Homo sapiens: one gene and its partners. The protein of the gene in region 2 purifies or fractionates together with the protein of the main gene of each other region. This does not show direct contact. Each region holds a gene or a part of one and is shown on either strand. Other genes may lie near its edges.

What was found.
Region 1: the proteins of SLC40A1 (region 2) and RBMS1 purify together in Homo sapiens (affinity purification with mass spectrometry; one large-scale study listed by BioGRID and IntAct). This does not show direct contact.
Region 3: the proteins of SLC40A1 (region 2) and UBE2J2 purify together in Homo sapiens (affinity purification with mass spectrometry; one large-scale study listed by BioGRID and IntAct). This does not show direct contact.
Region 4: the proteins of SLC40A1 (region 2) and CP purify together in Homo sapiens (co-immunoprecipitation; one study listed by IntAct). This does not show direct contact.

What each region holds. Positions count from the first base shown.
Region 1 is NC_000002.12:160,280,177-160,285,021, forward strand, and holds part of RBMS1 (RNA-binding motif, single-stranded-interacting protein 1), read right to left. Parts: coding exon 4,819-4,845; intron 4,693-4,818; coding exon 4,599-4,692; intron 2,129-4,598; coding exon of another isoform or gene 2,081-2,128; intron 1,189-2,080; coding exon 1,138-1,188; intron 1-1,137.
Region 2 is NC_000002.12:189,559,359-189,564,400, forward strand, and holds the end of SLC40A1 (ferroportin), read right to left. Parts: intron 4,868-5,042; coding exon 4,226-4,867; intron 2,834-4,225; coding exon 2,520-2,833; 3' UTR 1,232-2,519; downstream 1-1,231. UniProt on the Homo sapiens protein: Transports Fe(2+) from the inside of a cell to the outside of the cell, playing a key role for maintaining systemic iron homeostasis.
Region 3 is NC_000001.11:1,263,224-1,268,068, forward strand, and holds part of UBE2J2 (ubiquitin-conjugating enzyme E2 J2), read right to left. Parts: intron 4,770-4,845; coding exon 4,639-4,769; exon of another isoform or gene 4,547-4,638; coding exon of another isoform or gene 4,510-4,546; intron 3,068-4,509; coding exon of another isoform or gene 2,875-3,067; intron 2,368-2,874; exon of another isoform or gene 1,608-2,367; coding exon of another isoform or gene 1,560-1,607; intron 164-1,559; coding exon 123-163; intron 1-122. UniProt on the Homo sapiens protein: Catalyzes the covalent attachment of ubiquitin to other proteins. Seems to function in the selective degradation of misfolded membrane proteins from the endoplasmic reticulum (ERAD).
Region 4 is NC_000003.12:149,214,699-149,219,543, forward strand, and holds part of CP (ceruloplasmin precursor), read right to left. Parts: intron 1-4,845. UniProt on the Homo sapiens protein: Multifunctional blue, copper-binding (6-7 atoms per molecule) glycoprotein. It has ferroxidase activity oxidizing Fe(2+) to Fe(3+) without releasing radical oxygen species. It is involved in iron transport across the cell membrane.

The DNA.
Region 1 (4,845 bases), about 29 Mb from region 2:
CATGGAGTATCAGGGACACAGATTGCTATGGGCATGTGTGGATCAGTGCATGTATATTATGTACACATGTACAGGTAAGTGTGGGTTTGAAGATGTGTCTATGTATGTGCACATGTATAGATCTATATGTATGTGTATATATCACACAAAACGTATACATATATCAGAGCGCGCCTCTCCTATTTCATCACCTAAACATGTTTTATCTGCTTCTTAAAGGTCATCTCAGCAATTTCTCATTCAGAACCTGTTATCCCTGGATTGCTATTTCATATACATGGTCTTACATCGCAGTATCCACTTTAAAAGGTATCCGAAGACAAATTGCTGTCTGAACATAAGGCCAAGAATACAGTTCTTTTTCTAAGCAACCAAATCTGTTTTTATTTTACACATATTGTGAACTGTATTGCTTACCAGGATTCCCATTTTGCATCAGTTACTAGAAAGCTTAGAGCCAAATTTGTGATTTTCTCATGTGAGCATGCAGGGTCATTGTGTTGGACATCCTTAGCCTTATTGTAACTTTGTTCTCCATATGTATTTTTAAATTTTCAAACCCTTCTTCCACAAACTAGATCTTATGTGTCTTTGAAAAACACATGAAATACACTATATAATAAGTATAACTCATTCAATTTAAAAAAATGTAATATATATGAATGCTCACGTCATTAAGAAATCACATTTGTTATTTACCAAATAATGTGCTACCACTTTAGTATTTATAATCTCCATAGAAAGGCCAAGTAACACTGATGAAAATCTTCATCTCGGTTTTGAACTTTATATCTGCATTAAACAGAATGTAAAAAATGAGAGCGGTTTTATCCCAAGTACTATTAAAAATGTAGCCTCTCATTTGAATGATCTCTAAAGAGCTGGTATGAATAAGAAAATGGTGCCCTGCCTCAAATATGATATATTTTAAGTTCTTATAGAAAATGTAACTTAATATCTTCTACCAAGTTGTTTTATAAGGATGAGAAGAAGTTTTATAATGAAATTGTACATTCTCATATTCCATGTTTAAAATTTCCCAAATCCTATACCACCCTTGGCAAATGGTTTTAACCTAGAGAGAATATACACATAACTTACTTGTAAAACACAAAGTCATTAAGATAAAAAACTTACAGGGTGCTGTAGAATATATGGTTGAGGTTGCATCCACGAAGGACTTTGCACCTAGAAAAGGGAGGATTTTGAAAGAAATATTGATTTTCATTGTAAAGCTTACCTATTTCTTTAGAACTCTTTTTAATCATGTTAAAAATCTACAGAAAGAAAACAAGGAAACAATACTATCAATGATTAAAAAGATTAAGGCAGTTAGAATTCTTGGCAAACTGGTCACTCTGAACAGGATGAAATGATTATTTAGAAACAATTTCTATTTGCCCACTCAAGAAGTAATTGTTGAGTATCAGGCAACAAAGAGAAAAAGGCGAAACAGACTGGGCCCCACCCTCAAGAAATTTACTATCTATGCAAGGGAGATAAACACAGCAACAACTCAAATAGTGAAAAGTGTTAACAATCAAGGTATGAACTAGGTGCTTTAGAATTACAGATGAATGACGATTAATTCCAGCACATCTTATTAGAAGCTAACCCTTAAAGTATGTGCTTATTTAATACAAAAAACCAAATTCAATTTCTCTTTCATATCTAGGACATTAATTTTAGAAATCTTGTATTGTGGTCAACAATTTCTACTTAGTGCAGAAAATAAAAATCTGAAATTCAGATTAAGGAAATTAAACTTCAGTAACTAGATTTTGACATCTACAGTCAAATGGGCATCCACACAGTAGACCCTCTGAATTGAGAAATAGATGTGAGAGTCAGGTTTTGTGGCAGGAAAGAAAGCATGTGTAGTCTGCCACTCAAGAGAAAAACATATCAGCCCATTTCTTGATGCCCAGAGCTTTCCAGAGTCTAAGTAATTTTATTAAGTTTCAGTTTCCAATTCTTAACAACAAAACCCTCCTGCATTTTATCCCCTATTGTTAACTTCAGAGGTTCAACAGAGAGGATATGGGGAAGAGTCATGGGGGAAGAATGTATTGCGATTTACCTTGATAGCAGAGCCCCGATACTTGTTTTCTCTGGTTTCCTTTGCCACCTAAGGCAGACCAAAGTTAAGTGCTTCTGCCTTGTTAACATTTCAGTTATCTGGACTGTAGCCTTTCCCCATTGGGGTTGGTGGTTTCTTGCAGCTGCCAATTTCTCAAATCCAATTGCATAAGCTTATGGTGGTTTAGTGGAGAAAGGCCCACTCCAACATGAGTGCAGGGCCCTCACTGGATATATGATGGGAAGGCAAACAACTCCCTACAGACCCTAATTTGGGCCAGATGCCCCCATTTTTTATATGCTTCAGTGGTCTTAATAATCTAATAGCTTATAGCATTACAGGATTAGGGAACTATGACATCTAATTTTCTTTCTTAAGCAGCAAATCAGCTGCTGTCAATTTCTATTCCTCAATTTTCTAATTATAAAATGGGAATAATAATGTTTTGTAAACTCTTTACTATTGGTTCTTAACCTCTTTAGGGTCATGGAGCCCTCTGAAAACCTAATTAGGGAAATAGAACATTTTTCCCCACTTAATTGCACACACACAAGCAACATTTTGCAAACAACTTAAGGAGTCACAGATCACTTAAAGCTCATCCACTGACCCTACTAGGTCCCTGAACTTATGTAGTTAAAAATCAGTCTTTGAGGCTATGGCACCGAGTGTCAGGCAATGCAATGAAATTCCATATGTATCTTAGAGAAATACAGAATGCCCAGGAGAGGAAATAAGGCCTCTGAAATAATATGTTATTTCTAGTTAGCTATATCAAATCTATTACTGACACAGATCTCCTAATTTTTATTGTACAAAATGGTTCTGTGGCCAAATGCACACTGGTTTTATATTATAAGAGGGAAAAAGAGGTGTTGGAGAAATGTGTTAATAGCTGTAATATCTATAGCAACATAAATTCAAATTAATACTTACAACCTTTCATTTGCCTGAGAATAACTTACACTTGCCCCTATTTTCAGTGACATATAAATGACAGAGGTTTCCAAGTTCAGACAGTTAAGAAAGACTACCTTTTCATAGCAGACACATGAATTGTTAATTAGGGAAGTGCACTAGAGCAGATCTCACTGAGTCTTATACAGTCAAAGAAAGGATAGGAATCCTAAATCCAAAACAACTAAAGAGGCATTAAATTAGTCAATACTACGCCCAGCAGAATGAAGCACCAGAATAAGTAACATAAGAACCCAGAGAGAAAAAAGAAAAGAAAACGAGTGACAACTCAGGGAAAGGAGGCTGTAAGAGCCTAGAAGCATAGGAGACTGTGAATGATAATGCCAATCCTCAGTTTTAGCGTATCTAATCACTTCTGTTATTCAAAACCATTTTTATGTTTTTAGGCAGAATTAGTTATATGACATTGCTTATGTTGGCCAATTCATTATTTAAACGTATAACTAATATACTCTTATTATCAGCCACCTAATCATGCATATTAATGATAATAATCATAGCTAACATTAACTGAGTGATAATGATATGTGAGGTCCTTGGCTGGGCTCTTTATACAGTCTCATTTGGTTTTCATAATTCTCTCAAGCCTATGAGATAGAAACTATTATTATCCCCATTTTAAAGATGAGGAAACTGAGGCTTATAGAAGTTAAAATAACACAACTATTAGATTACATATTGTAGTCCTCTAACCCCAGAAATTAGGACTACAACATCTAATTCAATTGTTTTAAAATCAAGAATACACAAAAATTTAGTCACACAGGATCCTGATGGTCAACAAAAGGGAACTCTGCTCCCACATGTCTGCAACTGAACTCCATTATAAGGTTCCTATCTGGGTCCAGGAAGTAATCCTGTTAGAGGTTTTCTGACACAGGAGGAGAAATGCATGTACACTACTGGGTTCATGGCGGACAGGAGCTACCTTTGCATTAAAATCAAATCAAATCTTGAAATACAAGACATTTCAAGAGTTTTTGTTGCTAAGTTGGGAATTTATTTTAAGGTAAAGCCTCCTCACTTAACCTAAACAGGAAGTCACCTTTTTGCTTTTATATTTTTACCTCAAATGTCAGCTGCATTGCTCACTTAATGCTACCTACTAGAGACACATCTTTATGTATTACCATGTTTATACTTGTTCTTTTATCAGTTCCTGCTGAAGAATAAACAAAAGCAAGGGTACACACCTATTCTGTATTATATCTAACGGCAATTATCTTAAGTTTCAATTTTTGGGACACATGGTGTCCAAAAGCAGGGCCCCTTGGTGAAGGAAGTGTTTGGGTTCATTCCAATCCAAAATGCTATGATTCCAAGGACTGACCACTGACAAACATTTTCCTTTGCTTTACATTCTCCTATACATAAATTGCTCTGCCAAATACAAAGCAGCTCATACTAAATTGGGTATCCAAGCTGCATAATATTTGACTCAAATTTCATAAACGCTCAAAATTTTAAGACACATAAAAATGTAGCAGAGATTCATGGTCCGCAAGTGGTTATACTGCTGACGAATCCTAAAGGTACAAACCTGGTAGGCAGATACAGGAGATGCAATATAGGGTGTAATAGAAGTTTGAGTGATCATTCGGTTTGTAGCAATACTGTATGGTGAAGGATAAAATCTAGAACAAACACAAAAGCCTTTATTAAGTAATCCTTTAAATAGAATAATTCATGGAACAAATGTCTGATATTTTCCACCTTCACATTTTCCCTCAAGCCATTATGGATTTATTTTAACGACATACCCGTTCTGTATAGCAGCTGTAGTTGGG
Region 2 (5,042 bases):
GTAAGAAGCCTGCAACAGAGAAAAGCAGGAAAAAAAATGTAATGAATTTGTTTTTAAGTGGGAACAAAATTAAATACTTCGGTAAAATGCAATTACATATAAAACGAGTATTTTCCTATTTCAAATCTACTTCATTCATTTTAATGACCTAATTGGCTCTGCAGTTATTTGAGTTTGACCCCATATTTAGAAGCACCCCCATAACACAGCCACACAGGTCACCTACCCCTGCCCTACTTCTGTGGTCTGAGGAAGTAAACAACAAAGGCTGTCCAGACCAGCAGTGATTCTTTTCCACTTCCTTCCTCTTCCTGCTCTGAGCAGTAGTCTGCAAAGGTAAGAGCAACAGCTGTAAAAATTCCTATTAACTCTTCAACTCCATGCTTCTTCTTCCTACACAGGGCCTCTCTCACTAGATGCACAGAATGGCAAAATGCCCATATTAAGAGCTGAGGCCTCCCCTTGCTAATGTGGTTCTGTTCATTTTTCAAGGTCATAGGCCTTCAGTTACAGCTGCAAACATTCAGGACAGATCTTCAATCCCAGCCTTGACCCCTGTGGGAGGGAGCAGAGAGCCAGTTCAAGACAGCAGCCAAACCTAACAGAGGCATCTAGTTTGCACAAACATCATGAACAGATCAGTAGCTGCAGGGCGATGCCAAATGCTCTCAAGTTCTCAATTTTAGGAGAAAGGAAAGGAGGCTCTGATCAACTATGTCTGAGTCCAGTCTGAATCCCTAGGACTGATAACAGTTTAGATCAAGTCCCCAATAAATGTTTCCTTTATGCAGAATGTGGCTCTACTCTCTCTAGAGGCAGCAGACATCTCTCCTCAGCTCCCCGTCATTACTAAGGTCCAACCTCTAGTAAAAATGCTGCCTTGTCTTGTAGTTCACTAAGTAATTCCACATGGCTTCTCTTATTTCATTCAACCAGGAAAGTTGAAAGGTAGGTAGGGTTGTTTTTACTATCATTTCCAATTTACAGAAGGGAAAATAGAAGTGAGAACTTAAAAGTGCTTAGTGTGACATATTCAAAGTCAAAGAAAGAGTGCTGGGCCTCATGTCTACTACACTTTTATCCAGTCCACCATAAACTAGAAATATGAACAGGGAGATAACACTAAAAATCATGACACTGTAGCCCTTTATAGAGAAAAACAAGTTACCCAAAACAGATGTTCTGTAACAAAAGCCTTGTTAAATAATTGGGGAACAGAATTCAGGAAAAATTAAGATTTTCAAAATATTTTTATATAGAAATTTTTTACAAAGATTTTACAACATAGCAAATCATTATGTCATACTGTAGAAAGATGAAGCAAAGGATTAAACTCCAAGGATAAAGAAAGTGCTCATAGCAACGTATTGCAGTCTCCATGAAAGTGCATATAAACGGTTAAGGCAAAGTACCATCTTGGTACAGACATGTTGCAAACTGACTTTTAAAACAATTTTTTAAAATATATACAAACTTTTTTTCTTCTATTCTTCTCAAAGGCATTTGAAAGGGATACTTTTATGAATATTCTTGCTGTAGAACAATGTAGAAATAACTTCTGGGTATAAAACAGTAAAAATAAAAATATTCTACCTGAGTGTGTTAAATCAAGTGATTTGTAAAACAAAACCTTCACAAGTGTGGGCTTTCTACATGTAACTTGCCAGGCTGAAGGCTTACACCCTCATGTTCTACAACACAGATCACTAATGATGATAACATGAGTTAAATTGGGATTCTTGCCCTTCTGTGTGGCTTTTGGCTTCTAGGTTCTATGACCAAACTATTGACATATTTGAAGTCTGTATGCAGTCATTGTGTGATAAATCTACTTTACAGCTTTGCTTCTACCTGCAGCTTACATGATAACCATGCTGTGAAGTGCTACATATGCTTCATACAATATGTTGCCCCATCTGATAATAAAAATACAAAGGTGCTCTTTAAGCTAAACCATAAACCTTATTAGAGAATTCTAGTTAAGTGTTTTGTTTTTCCACATACATGTAAATACCTTAAGATCAATAGGATCAATAAGGATAATATTAGTTATCAAAATTTAGTCTTCATACTTGAAGAATTTGTTTTTAAAAATAACTAAGATGCAAAAAAATAAATTAGCTAGTCTTGAACAAGAGTGAGTTTTGCAGAAAACTGACATATCTGAATTCTAGTACAGATAAGAATCTGTCAAATGATAACTGAATTCACGTGACTAACCACTCTTTTACGTAAGATTGTATCTACTCATGAGAAATAGGGGAATTCAGTGTTATCATTATAGTCTCCGTATTTAAACTGAGTTTTTCTTTTCCAATTTTTTTTCCATGCCTCAACATAAGGGAAATTAATCAGTTAATTTCTGCTGACTTAGGTTTCCTAAACAGCTTTTAGTTCTCAAGGCACAGCTGTGGTAAAAACAGAGCAAAACACCCAGCCATTTATTGGAATTCTGCAGTACAAAATAAGCACATGTGCTCTATATAATCTAGTAACAGGATAGCAACAGTTAAACTGTCTCAAACAACAGATGTATTTGCTTGATTTTCCTTCCTAACTTCTTTTGCATCAGGACCGCAAGCAAAGAGCTTGTTTCCCAGAGTATTTTGGGCAAATCGGAAATACATAATGTGGCCCATTGCCACAAAGGAGACTGAAATCAATACGAGCAAGCCAAAAGCTTCAGGATTTGGAGCCAGGATGACCATGATGAAATGCAGAAGATCAAGAAGATAGTTCATGGAGTTCTGTACACCATTTATAATGCCTCTTTCAGATTCAATTACATTTTCTTGCAGCAACTGTGTCACAGTTAAATCAAAGGACCAAAGACCTATAATAAAATATTTTTTTAAAGATTAGATTTTAGTTTACAGGCATACATTTCAAATCACAGATAAAAATCTGTTGACATATGCAAAATATACATTTTAGCCTGACTGTCTTTAAGTCACCTTAAATATACCATAGCCTTGCCTTAAGAATTATTTTTCATAAATAAATATTGGGTTATTAGTGGCCTCAATAAATGATTTTTACAGTCATCAGACAAAAAGAAGTCTAATCTACAAACTTCTTAGTTCTGTTTTTCTGTGATTATTCATACTACAAAAACAAAACTTTGAAATCAGAGACATAATAAATCCTATTATAGTATAAGTACTAGTATTTTTTAAGTTTCAAATGACCTAATAAATGGTTATGGTTAAAGTGTAAGGAAACTTTAAACCATTGTTATATTACTGCTAGAGTTCTAAAGCCCAAACAATAAAGCTGTCTTGCCTGGAAATTAATATCTTCAATAAACTAATGAACTGTTTTGTATCACAAGATAAAAACAGTTTCATTTCAAGACTGAATTCAGAGATAATTCATCAGTACTCTATTAATTATTACTTAAATTTTGCTTTGTAAGAAGTCTTTATGTTTCCTTCCAGGGCTATAAAATCCATTTGTGTGGCAAACTATATAATAAATACATATTTGCTAGAGAAGACCTTTGAAGGATTTTTTTTATCACTTTCACATCTTCTTTTAAAGCCAAAAACATTACCTTTTTAGTGTTGTCCTATGGGAATATTTTCTAAACTACAGTTTTTTTGTTAAGGTTATTGCAATATCAAGACTCTACTAGATGGCAGTATAATTAATATAGCTAATATCTTTTATAAATTAAATTACATTTAAAAAGTAATCACTTGAGCTCAGTAATTCAAGACCACCTTCGGCAACATGGCAAAACCCCATCTCTACAAAACATACAAAAATTAGCAAGGTATGGTGGCACATGGCTGTAGTCCCAGCTACTTGGGGGACTGAGGCAGGAGGACTGCTTGATCCCAGGAGGTCGAGGCTGCAGTGAGCTGTGACTGCACCACTGCACTCCAGCCTGGGTAACAGAGCAAGACCCTGATCTCAAAAAAAAAAAAACAAAAAAAAAAACAAGTAATATTTAAGATATTCATTTAGAAAAAATTATTTTCAAGCCTGAACCATGTTTTAAGTATATGTATATAATAAAGTAAACAAATACAGGTTTTCAAACTATAAAATAAAAAACACAATAAATATAAAGTATAAATATGTAAAATAAAAATTTCGTAAGAGTGGATTTTGCTTAAATTAACATTTAGGGAACATTTCAGATCATTTATTAATGGATTCTCTGAACCTACATTACAAAAAGACACTTTAGTTCATTAATATATAAAAAGAGATTTCTTACCGATTCTAGCAGCAATGACGCCTGCAAACAGCAGACTGACAGAGATTATGGGCACAGATTCAGGACTTGTCTCCGGGACAATATTAGCAGAATTAGACCCATTAGACATGTATATTTCAGTTGTAATTTCAGGTATCTTGGTAGGTGTAATTGACTCTCCTTGAATGAACCTTGATCGGATATCTTCAAAAGGAGAAACGGACAAGTCCAGGGGGCTTCCAGGCATGAATACAGAGATCACACACAAGATCAAACAGGAAAGCTGTGCCAATCCTGAGATCAGACCTGTCCGAACCAAACCACATTTTCGACGTAGCCAAGTAAAAGCTACAGTTCCCATTATTCCAGTTATAGCTGATGCTCCCATCAAAATACTGAGGATGGAACCACTCAGTCCCTGAGTGTAGGCGTACCCTGTGGTGATGCAGTCAAAGCCCAGGACAGTCATATAAAGGAAAGCAAGACCCATGCCAGCCAGAAACACAGGCTGGTTGTAGTAGGAGACCCATCCATCTCGGAAGGTACGGAAGGGCTCAGCCATCTGGGAGGCACAAGTAGGCTCTTGCTCATGTTCAAGCTCATGGATGTTAGAGTCTTTCACACCCATTAGATGAGTTCCCTCCAGGGGTTTTGGCTCAGTATCTGTTAAGAAAAGATACCATTATTTTGTTGGGGAGGACATGTAGAAATAAAAGCCAATTATTAGTAGTACTTTTTTTCCTTCTATTCCCCTTCCCAATGGGTACCCTTGGTTAGACATTGTAATATGTATTTTCTTTTACTAATAATCTAAGAATTCCAGCCAAGGAATAATCAT
Region 3 (4,845 bases), on a different chromosome or scaffold from region 2:
TTAACTAGCACACATCCAAAGTAGAAAGGCTGCTGTTTGCAAATAAAAGATGTTGAACAGGCAAGGCTGACTGAGAATATAAAAACCGCCTGGTGTTCTTCTCCTAAGCACAGAATCCTTACCTTCATAAGGGGTCATCTCTGGGCCTCGGACGACATAGTGCCTAAGGGAGAGAAGAAAATTACTTGGGATTTGAGGACAGCAAATTCTCCAAAATCTGAATCATTCCAAGCCTGGGGTTTATAGAACCCAGCCAAAATTACATTCACATTCAGGCAGTGAACAAATGAAGGTGAAATGTCACACAGCCACACGGCTTCAAAACCCCCGTCTCTTCTACCGTGGGTGCTTTTAGTCTCTTGTAACAGGATCTTAGAGACTATACTTTATAAGTTTACCATAAAGTACCTTTGTTTCGACAATATAACATGCACGAAGCTCATCTTAATAATAACTGAAATCTTAAATAAATTTTAATTTCACAGTACATTACTAAGATGTACTTGAAGACTGTAATCCCAGCACTTTGGGAGGGCACGGTGGAAGATCGCTTGAGCCCAGGAGCTTGACACCAGCCTAGGCAACATAGCAAGACCCCACCTTTATTTAAAAAAAAAAAGTTAGCCGGGTGTGGTAGTGCATGCCTGCAGCCCGCCTACTCAGGAGGCTGAGGCGGGAGGATCACTTGAGCCCAGGAGTTTAAGGCTGCAGTGAGCTATGATTGTGCCACCACATCCCATTTGGGCAACAGAGTGAGACCCTATCTCCAAAGAAAAAACGATGTACTTTGAAATGTATATTCTTAAATGTACTTATATATAATGTGTTTTTTGATATCACACATGCAGGCTAAACAGAACACAGCTAGTGATGCGGGGCCGGCTCGGTACCCCCAGCCCTTTCTCGTGCTCCTGGAAAAACCATAAGTGACTTGAGCAGCTGTCCTGGAGCAGAAGGAACAGGAACTGCCGTGATTGTGTCCAAAGCCACAGTCCCCACACAGAGCTCACCCTCAGACCAGGGGCAGCAGCAAATCGACTAAACACTCCTCCACACAAATAAATAAGGCTTCTGCTTTACGTAAAGAAGTGTCTGGGCTTTACAGATTCCCAAACGAAACAGAAGAGCACAGAGAAGAAAGTAAAACCAGCTAGAAATGCCAGAAACCAGACATGGCTTCAACTGCCAACACCGGCCAACACCGGCCATCATCTTTCCCCTTGCTCTGCCCCAGGACATGTGTGCCATCACTTTAAAACTAATGGGGGCTGGGCTCGGTGGCTCATGCCCGTGATCCCAGCACTCTGGGAGGCCAAGGTGGGTAGATCACCTGAAGTCAGGAATTCGAGACCAGCCTGGTCAACATGGCGAAACTCCGTCTCTACTAAAAATACAAAAATTAGGCCAGGTGCGGTGGCTCACACCTGTAATCCCAGCACTTTGGGAGGCTGAGGCAGGTGGATTGCCTGAGGTCAGGAGTTCAACACCAGCCTGGGCAACACGGTGAAACCCTGTCTCTATTAAAAATACAAAAATTAGCCAGCCATGGTGGCACACACCTGTAATCCCAGCTACTCAGGAGGCTGAGCCAGGAGAATCGCTTGAACCTGGAAGACGGAGGTTGCAGTGAGCCGAGGTCACACCGCTGCACTCCAGCCTGAGTGACAGAAATAGTACTCAAAAGAAACTACTAATGGGATGACGTATAGTAATGTATACTAATGGGATGATGTATCAGCAGAGCCAGCTGGTATGTTTTACTCAAAAAATGCCATTATCATGTGTCATTGACCCAGGAACCCAGTGGCTCTGAGCTCAGCACGCGATGCACCCAGGAATGTGGCCTTACGTTGTTACTGTGCCCAACCTGCGAAAACTGGGAAGAAATGAAGAAGTCATCCTCTTCCTGAGACAGAGCCCAGCAGCCTTGGGGCGGCTGAGAGAAGATGGGATCCACGTGGCCCATAGCGCACCCCACAGGCCTTTTCTGGGAAAGCAGTCTTCTCTCGGGGAAGGGAGAGACACCTGCCGAGGACCTGCCAGGGGCTCTCGCACTGACGCTGCTGTCCTTAATGCCTCAACAGTACAGGCAACATGGGCTACGCTGAGCCCCTGCTCTCCTGGAAGTCTGGTATTTTGGTATTTTGGCAGGTGCCAGGCAGAGGGTGCCTAGGACCAGCCCCATAAAGTCCCTGGGCCTTCCCCTAATGTTTTAGTTTCCAATGAGTTTCTCTGCTCAACATTCCACACATGCCGTCCAAACCCAAGCCTGCTGCTGGGAATGGAGCACAGAGACTTTGCCCCACATGCCTCTTCCGCTGGCTGACTGCAGTTTTCTCTCGTGTGTGTGTGTGTGTGTGTGTGTGTGTTTTCTCTCCATTGTGTGTGTGTGTGTGTGTGTGTGTGTGTGTGTGTGTGTGTGTGTGGTGGAGTCTCACTCTGTCGCCAGGCTGGAGTACAGTGGTGCGATCTCAGCTCACTGCAACCTCCGCTTCCCGGGTTCAAGCGATTCTCCTGCCTCACCCTCCCAAGTAGCAAGTAGCTGAGATTACAGGCGTGCGCCACCATACCGGGCTAATTTCTGTATTTTCAGTAGAGACAGGGTTCCACCATGTTGGCCAGGCTGGTCTCAATCTCCTGACCTTGTGATCCACCCACCTCGGCCTCCCAAAGTGCTGGGATTACAGGCATGAGCCACTGTGCCTGGACTTCTCTCCGTAATTTTAATGGTGAGTATTCTTTGTGAATCATCGAACCTGCACCGGGACTTGGGGACGCCTGACCCACAGATTTGTGGGGAGGGATTTCCCCACACAATGAAGACGTCCTCGCAACCAGCGAGGAGGCGGCTACCGTGGAACTTGTCCCTCTCACCTGCCAGCGATGTCCTGGGGCCACATGTGATTTTCAACACTGGGGGCAGAGAGCACTCTGGTGGCCAAGGGGCTCCGCCTCACCCTGGGTATCCTCCGCCTGCCTGGGCTGGGCCTCCTCTGTGAGCCAGAGAAGGTGGACCCCTGACCAAGCCGAAACACATTTCCTTTCAACTCACTGAAATATCTTTTCTCTGGAATTAAAAAAAATTAGGCCAGGCATGGTGGCTCAAGCCTGTAATCCCAGCACTTTGGGAGGCTGAGGCAGGCAGATCACCTGAGATAAGGAGTTCGAGACCAGCCTGACCAATATGGTGAAACCCCATCTCTAAGGCAGGAGAATTGCTTGAACCAGGGAGGCGGAGGTCACAGTGAGCCGAGATCACGCCATTGCACTCCAGCCTGGGCGACAGAGCAAGACTCTGTCTCAAAAAAATAAATAAGGCCGGGCGTGGTGGCTCACGCCTGTAATCCCAGCATTCTGGGAGGCCAAGGCGGGCGGATCACGAGGTCAGGAGATCAAGACCATCCTGGCTAACACGGTGAAACCCCGTCTCTACTAAAAATACAAAAACAAAAAATTAGCCGGGCATGGTGGCAGGCGCCTGTAGTCCCAGCTACTTGGGAAACTGAGGCCAGAGAATGGCATGAACCCGGCAGGCAGAGCTTGCAGTGAGCCGAGATTGTGCCACTGCACTCCAGTCTGGGTGACAGTGCAAGACTGTCTCAAAAAATAATAATAAGTAATTTTTTTTTAAAAGATCAAAATATAAAACATCCTTACATTTTATTTTATTTTATTTTATTTTGAGACAGAGTTTCGCTCTTGTTGCCCAGGTTGGAGTGCAGTGGTGTGATCTCAGCTCACTGCAAGCTCCGCCTCCCGGGTTCAAGCGATTCTCCTGCCTCGGCTTCCCGAGTAGCTGGGACTACAGGTGTGCGCCATCATGCCCAGCTAATATTTGTATTTTTAGTAGAGACAGGGTTTCACCATGTTGACCAGGCTGGTCTCGAACTCCTGACCTCAGGTGATCCGCCCGCCTGAGCCTCCCAAAGTGCTGGGATTACAGGTGTGAGCCACCATGCCCGGCCTCTCACACTTTATTTCTTACCAAATTACTAGCAGACCTGTAATGGCAGTGTTTCGACAGAGCAGTATGCACTCTCACACTCTATACTTCAGCAAGGGGGAGAGTCACCATGAGGTGAATGCTTATGAGGCACAGGTCCTCTCGTTGTCAGCCTGAGGGTCGGGGCACCTGGCCCAAGCCAGTGCCAGGGACAGGAGTGTCGGACCCTAGTCCTGTCAAATACTCCAAGCCAAAACAGGCTAATTCCCATATCCAGAAGCAAAGAGCAGAGTCTAGAAAGGCAGTTTCTCCTCTAAGTGCCTAGAGTGCACACCAGCAACAGCTGTGAACCCTGCATACCTGGACCCCTCCCCTAAGGACCCCACACCAGAGACTCTCTCCAGCCCCAACCTGAGTCAACCTGGACCCCGCCCCCCTCAAGGGCCCCACACCGGAGATTCTCTCCAGCCCCAGCCTGAGTCAAGCATGGCTCTGTGATGTCCCCGGCATGCGTCCATTGGGAAAAGACCAGAGAGTGTCCACAGGCCCCTGGGCACCCCACTCACCCCGGGGGAGGGTGCAGGAGCACCTTGCCAATGCCATGACTGGGGCACCAGGCTCGCCCAGCAGGGGCCGGCAGAGGCCTGCGTGGCAGCGACAGTCAGCGCAGGGCGATCAGTGGCGCGGAGCCTTACCACTCGAGAATATTCGAAGGGAGGGGCTCGGCACAGATGTAAGGCACCGGGTCTTTCTTAATGCGAAGGTAGTCCTGCTTCAGCCTCTGGGTTGCCGTGGTCGGAGCCCTCTTACTGCTGGTGCTGCTCATCTGTTAAAAGCAACGTCTACACTGACGACGAGAAGCAGCGCCGGCCACAGCTCTCTCCCCTGGCGCAGCCCCACTC
Region 4 (4,845 bases), on a different chromosome or scaffold from region 2:
ATGGACACAGGTAGGCATGGGAAAAGGGCAAGACACTGGGGTGAACTCTGTCCCTAAACCCATAGCAAGGAATGCACAGAAAGAGTCTTAATAAATATATGTCTTAACAACAGCAAAATTGTTGCATCAAAGACTACTAAGTTTAAAAGCAGAGAGTCATTCAGTCCATATGACTGAGAGGAGGTCAATAAGAGTGCAATTTCAGTTAGGTACACAACTGCAGCTGCAAAGTCTACAGTACAAAGGTACAATTCCACTCTGGTCCCACCGGAACCCTGGACCAATCAATCTCACAGAGACTTGTCTAAGCCCCAGGGTAAATTTTCTTAAGAGTCTGAACACACTTTTATTTCTGAGAGATTGATTTGATAATATTTGGAGACTTTACTCCATGCTTTACCATGTCCTATTGGTACACATCTTACATAGGCCAAAGTTAAAAGTTAGCCCTCAAATTCTTAAGGCTTCATTTAAATAAAATGTTTCTTTATATTTTCTGAATGTAAATACACTTTGGCATACATCATGTCCTATTTTGATAAACTATAGCAGGCTTTGTCAAAATGATTTTATTGCATTGAAATGCTCCTGTATTAATCATTTCCTAAAATAGGAAGAGCATTGCCATAAACAAATACCTAAGACCAAGACCAAGACCTATATTGCCTAGGCTTTGTAACTAATTTTTCTAGGCAAAGTTTTTTGGGGGGGTTAAAATTGCTTTTAAAATTATTGATCTGAAGGTATAACATATCTAGGCGTTTTAACATCTGAAATTCCTTTTATACACATTGCAATATGCAAACTGCTTTTTGCATCTTGCCTTTTATTGTGAAAAAAACTGTCTTAACCAAACTGGAAAATATTTTACACTGTGTGACACTTTGGGAGAAGTCTATTTGTTTATGCTTTGTCTCCAAATAAACATTAAAAGGTCATTAGGGGCTCTCTATTTAATTTCGACAGCACAGCTTGAGGACAAAGGGCCAGTTACTGGAAGCTTGCAGGAAGTTTGCCAGTTAGATATTCAGCCACAAGAATCTATTATAGCTGTTCTTTCAACCAAATAATTCACATTTAATTGTAGTTCTTCCTGTTGACAACTGTAGTATGTTCCTTTCTACTCATTACTGTAGACATATCTCCCTTCAAGTAATCAATCACATTCTCTCTTTTTAGCCCCTTATTTAAAAAAAGAAAAGCCCGCTCCTATAATTTCTGGTAGTCTTAGACCCAGAAATGAGTTTTTAATAGTAGCATAACTATTTTTTAGTATTGCTTTGGTAAGATATTAATAATGCTATTCCCTCCCATAAATTTAGAATTCACTCAAGTGATCTTGGTTTATGCTTAGACGTGGTTCCCAAAACTTGGGTATTATAGGTGAAAAGTTTCTGGATTTTTGACTTCATTAATTGAGACATATATTTTTTATTGCTGCATAACAAATTATCACAAAGTAGGTTAAAACAACACCCATTTATAATCTCACTATTCTATGGGTCAGAGTCTGGCATGGTGTGGCTGGGTTCACTGCCTCAGGCATCACCAAGCTGAAATCAAGGGGCTGCTGAGCTGAGTACTTATCTGAGGCTCTGTGGAGAAATCTGCCTAGCTCATTTGGGTTATTGCCAGAATTCAGTTCAGTGGGGTCATAGAATTAAAATCCTTGTTTGCTTGCTGGCTATGGGCCGAGAGCCTCTCCCAGTTTCTTAAGGTCACCCGTATGCCCTCCTAGGTGGCCCCTTTCATCTTCAAGTCAGCTTCAGTGTGTGGACTCTTCAGATAATCTCACTGACTAAAACATAAATCATGAGAGTGATGTCTCATCCTGTTCACAGGTTCTGGAGATTTAGGATAGGATTTCTTCTGGGAGCCACTTTGGAAATGCTGCCTACCATAAACAAGAATCATAAGGAAAACAGTCAAAAATTAACTGCTGCAAGAATATGGCAGAGACTCAACCTAGGTATATATAACACAAATTCAAGTGATTTGCCGGTTCTAACCAGCCTTCCTCCACTGGCGCAGCATGAATGCAGTACCTAGTGAATTTTCTTTTGTCTGTGTTCTCAGGAGAAATAGGAACTTGATAATAAATGGAATTTGGTCAGTGTGAAATGTTAGTCACTTAATTAGCTCTTCCATACAAGCTGTCTTGTGTGAAGTGTTTGGAAGTGTACTGCACTAGCTATTGCTTGCTTTTTTTTTTTTTTTTTTGAGATGGAATCTTGCTCTGTCGCCCAGGCTATAATGTAACGGCGTGATCTCGGCTCACTGCAACCTCCACCTCCTGGGTTCAAGCAACTCTCCTGCCTTGGCCTCCTGAGTAGCTGGGACTACAGGCGCACGCCACCACACCTAGCTAATTTTTGTATTTTTAGTAGAGACGGGATTTCACCATGTTGGCCAGGCTGGTCTCAAACTCCTGACCTTGTGATCCACCTGCCTTGGCCTCCCAAAGTGCTGGGATTACAGGTGTGAGCCACCACGCCCAGCCCTATTGCTTGCTATTTTTTATTTGGCAACCTTGGAGAATGAGTCATTTAAAGTAAATTTTCCAGAAAATTTTAGCTAGTAATTGTACCTATTTAAGAATCATTTAAAAATTTAAAAATCATTTTTGAAGGGATGCTATATAACTTGGGAGGCCACTAGGCTGAGACAACATCAGCGCCTTGGGTTCCTACGTAAGCAAACCAAAACCCAATTCAATGTAGTAAACAGTAAAATGAAACTTCGAATCTGTAACTAGAGACTTTACCAATCAGAAGCCGCCAACTAACATCTAACTAGGGAGTCTCCACTTTAACCAGTCTAATATCTATTTCTTAGTCTGAGAATACGTTATAAAAGTTTCCTCCCTGCCCAGAGGAGCATTGACAGAACTGCTTGTGGTCTTAGGGCACCCAATTGCTGTGGCTGAATGCTTGAATAAACTTGTTAAACTTTCAATATGCCCAAGTTTATCTTTTAATAGGGGTAAAATGAATGTCATTAGTGCAAGCTTTTTCTTTAAAAATATTTTATTTGCTTCCCTGTTTTCCTAAACAGCGGATATAATGGAAAAAAAGTAACTTTTTTGATAACAATAGTGAAATGAACACTTATTGAATACTTATTATATCCTGATCACTCAAGATCATAATTATAGTAATTATGATTACCGTAAGGTGGAATGTTCTTTGTTGTCTAGTTTTTTGGTCAGGATTTGAGCTGTTATTTCTTCTTGGTCATTAGGCCTGCTTATAGTGACATCTTCACTGTACCATTTGTTTTGGAAACCTCTAATGGAATGAAAAACCCGGTAATAATGTTTGTAAGAACTGTATGTTAAGAAAGTTGCCAAGCCTGAGTGAGAGCCTATGAAGTCAAGTATAAAAGAGTTTTGTGATGGCCGTTCGTATACTTAAAAAAATTTTCACTTATTTCCAGCTTCCTAGAGGTCATCAGAAAAAAAAGTAATCTGAAGATAAGAGAATTACTATAATTTTTGCTATTATATAGTCAATTAATTCAGTAAATAATTAACTAATGCCTACTATGGACCCAGAACACACTATTGTGTTTACTAATTGTTTTTATATGTATGTCATTTATTTTAATTTGAATATATATAACTTAGGATCAGGAATTATCTCTTATAAAGTCTTTAACTACTTACTGATGTGTTGAAGTGACAGATAAGGCACTGACCCAAGTAAATAGCAGTACTGAGTATAAGGAAATTATTTTCCACTTCACTCTTTTAGAAATAAATATTATTGGCATTAATACCAGAGAAGTAAACTTTATTTTTTTAGTCCCCCCCAAAACCTATACATTTTTCTCTTTTAATATCTGCCAGTGTTTTCAGTTGCACTAACCCTGCATATAATCCCCTCAGGTGACTTTTCTATCTTATTCTGTTACCTGATTTGTTCTATAGCATGAATCTCTCCACATGAGGAGCAAGGAAAAGTTTTTACAATACAGTCTATGATTTTTCCTATCTTCCTATGTATCTTTTATTTACTCATTTAAACTTATTCAGAAATATTTATTTAGTGTCTCCTATATTCTAGGTACTAGTGACCAAGCACTAGTACTTGCATATGCATATACTAGTACTCTCAATGCATATTTTCCTGTTCATCATCCCAGACCTTCAAGATCAACATTCAGCTTAAACTCGATTCTTTACCTAAAATTCATATTACACTCTTTCACATCTTATTCTTCAGCCCATTTATTTCCACTCCTTTTTAGTCATCATACGATAAGAAGTGCCAACCATGTCTTGTGATACTCCATCATCCTTCACTGACTGGGCTAAACATGCTGCAAATCTGGGACAAAGAAGGGACCAAAAGGTTGCTATCTGCACACATCTATGCAAAAAGTTTAGCATAGTATTGGCAAAATTGCTGAAGCTGTATTCAAAATTCACTGGTAAGATATATGGGGGAAAAAAATCACAGAGAAAGCAGTCCCACCTAGAGTTTGCAAAACTGTAGCATATTGTTGAAGCCAGAGGAGATGTTAAAGTCACAGGACAATAACAAAAAGAGAGGTGGACTTTGCAACTAGAAGATGCTCCATTTTTCCTTTTAAGGAGCCTTAAGTATCTCTATTAAGTATACTTTTTAAGTAACTGATATGGTTTGGCTGTGTCCCCACCCAAATCTCACCTTGAATTGTAATAATCCCCACATGTCAAGGGAGGGGGCCAGGTGGAGGTAACTGAATCATGGATGTGGTTTCCCCCATATTGTTCTCATGGTAGTGAATAAGTCTCATGAGATCTGATGGTTTTATAAATGAGAGTTCCCCTGCACAAGCTCTTTCTTGGCTGCTGCCATGTAA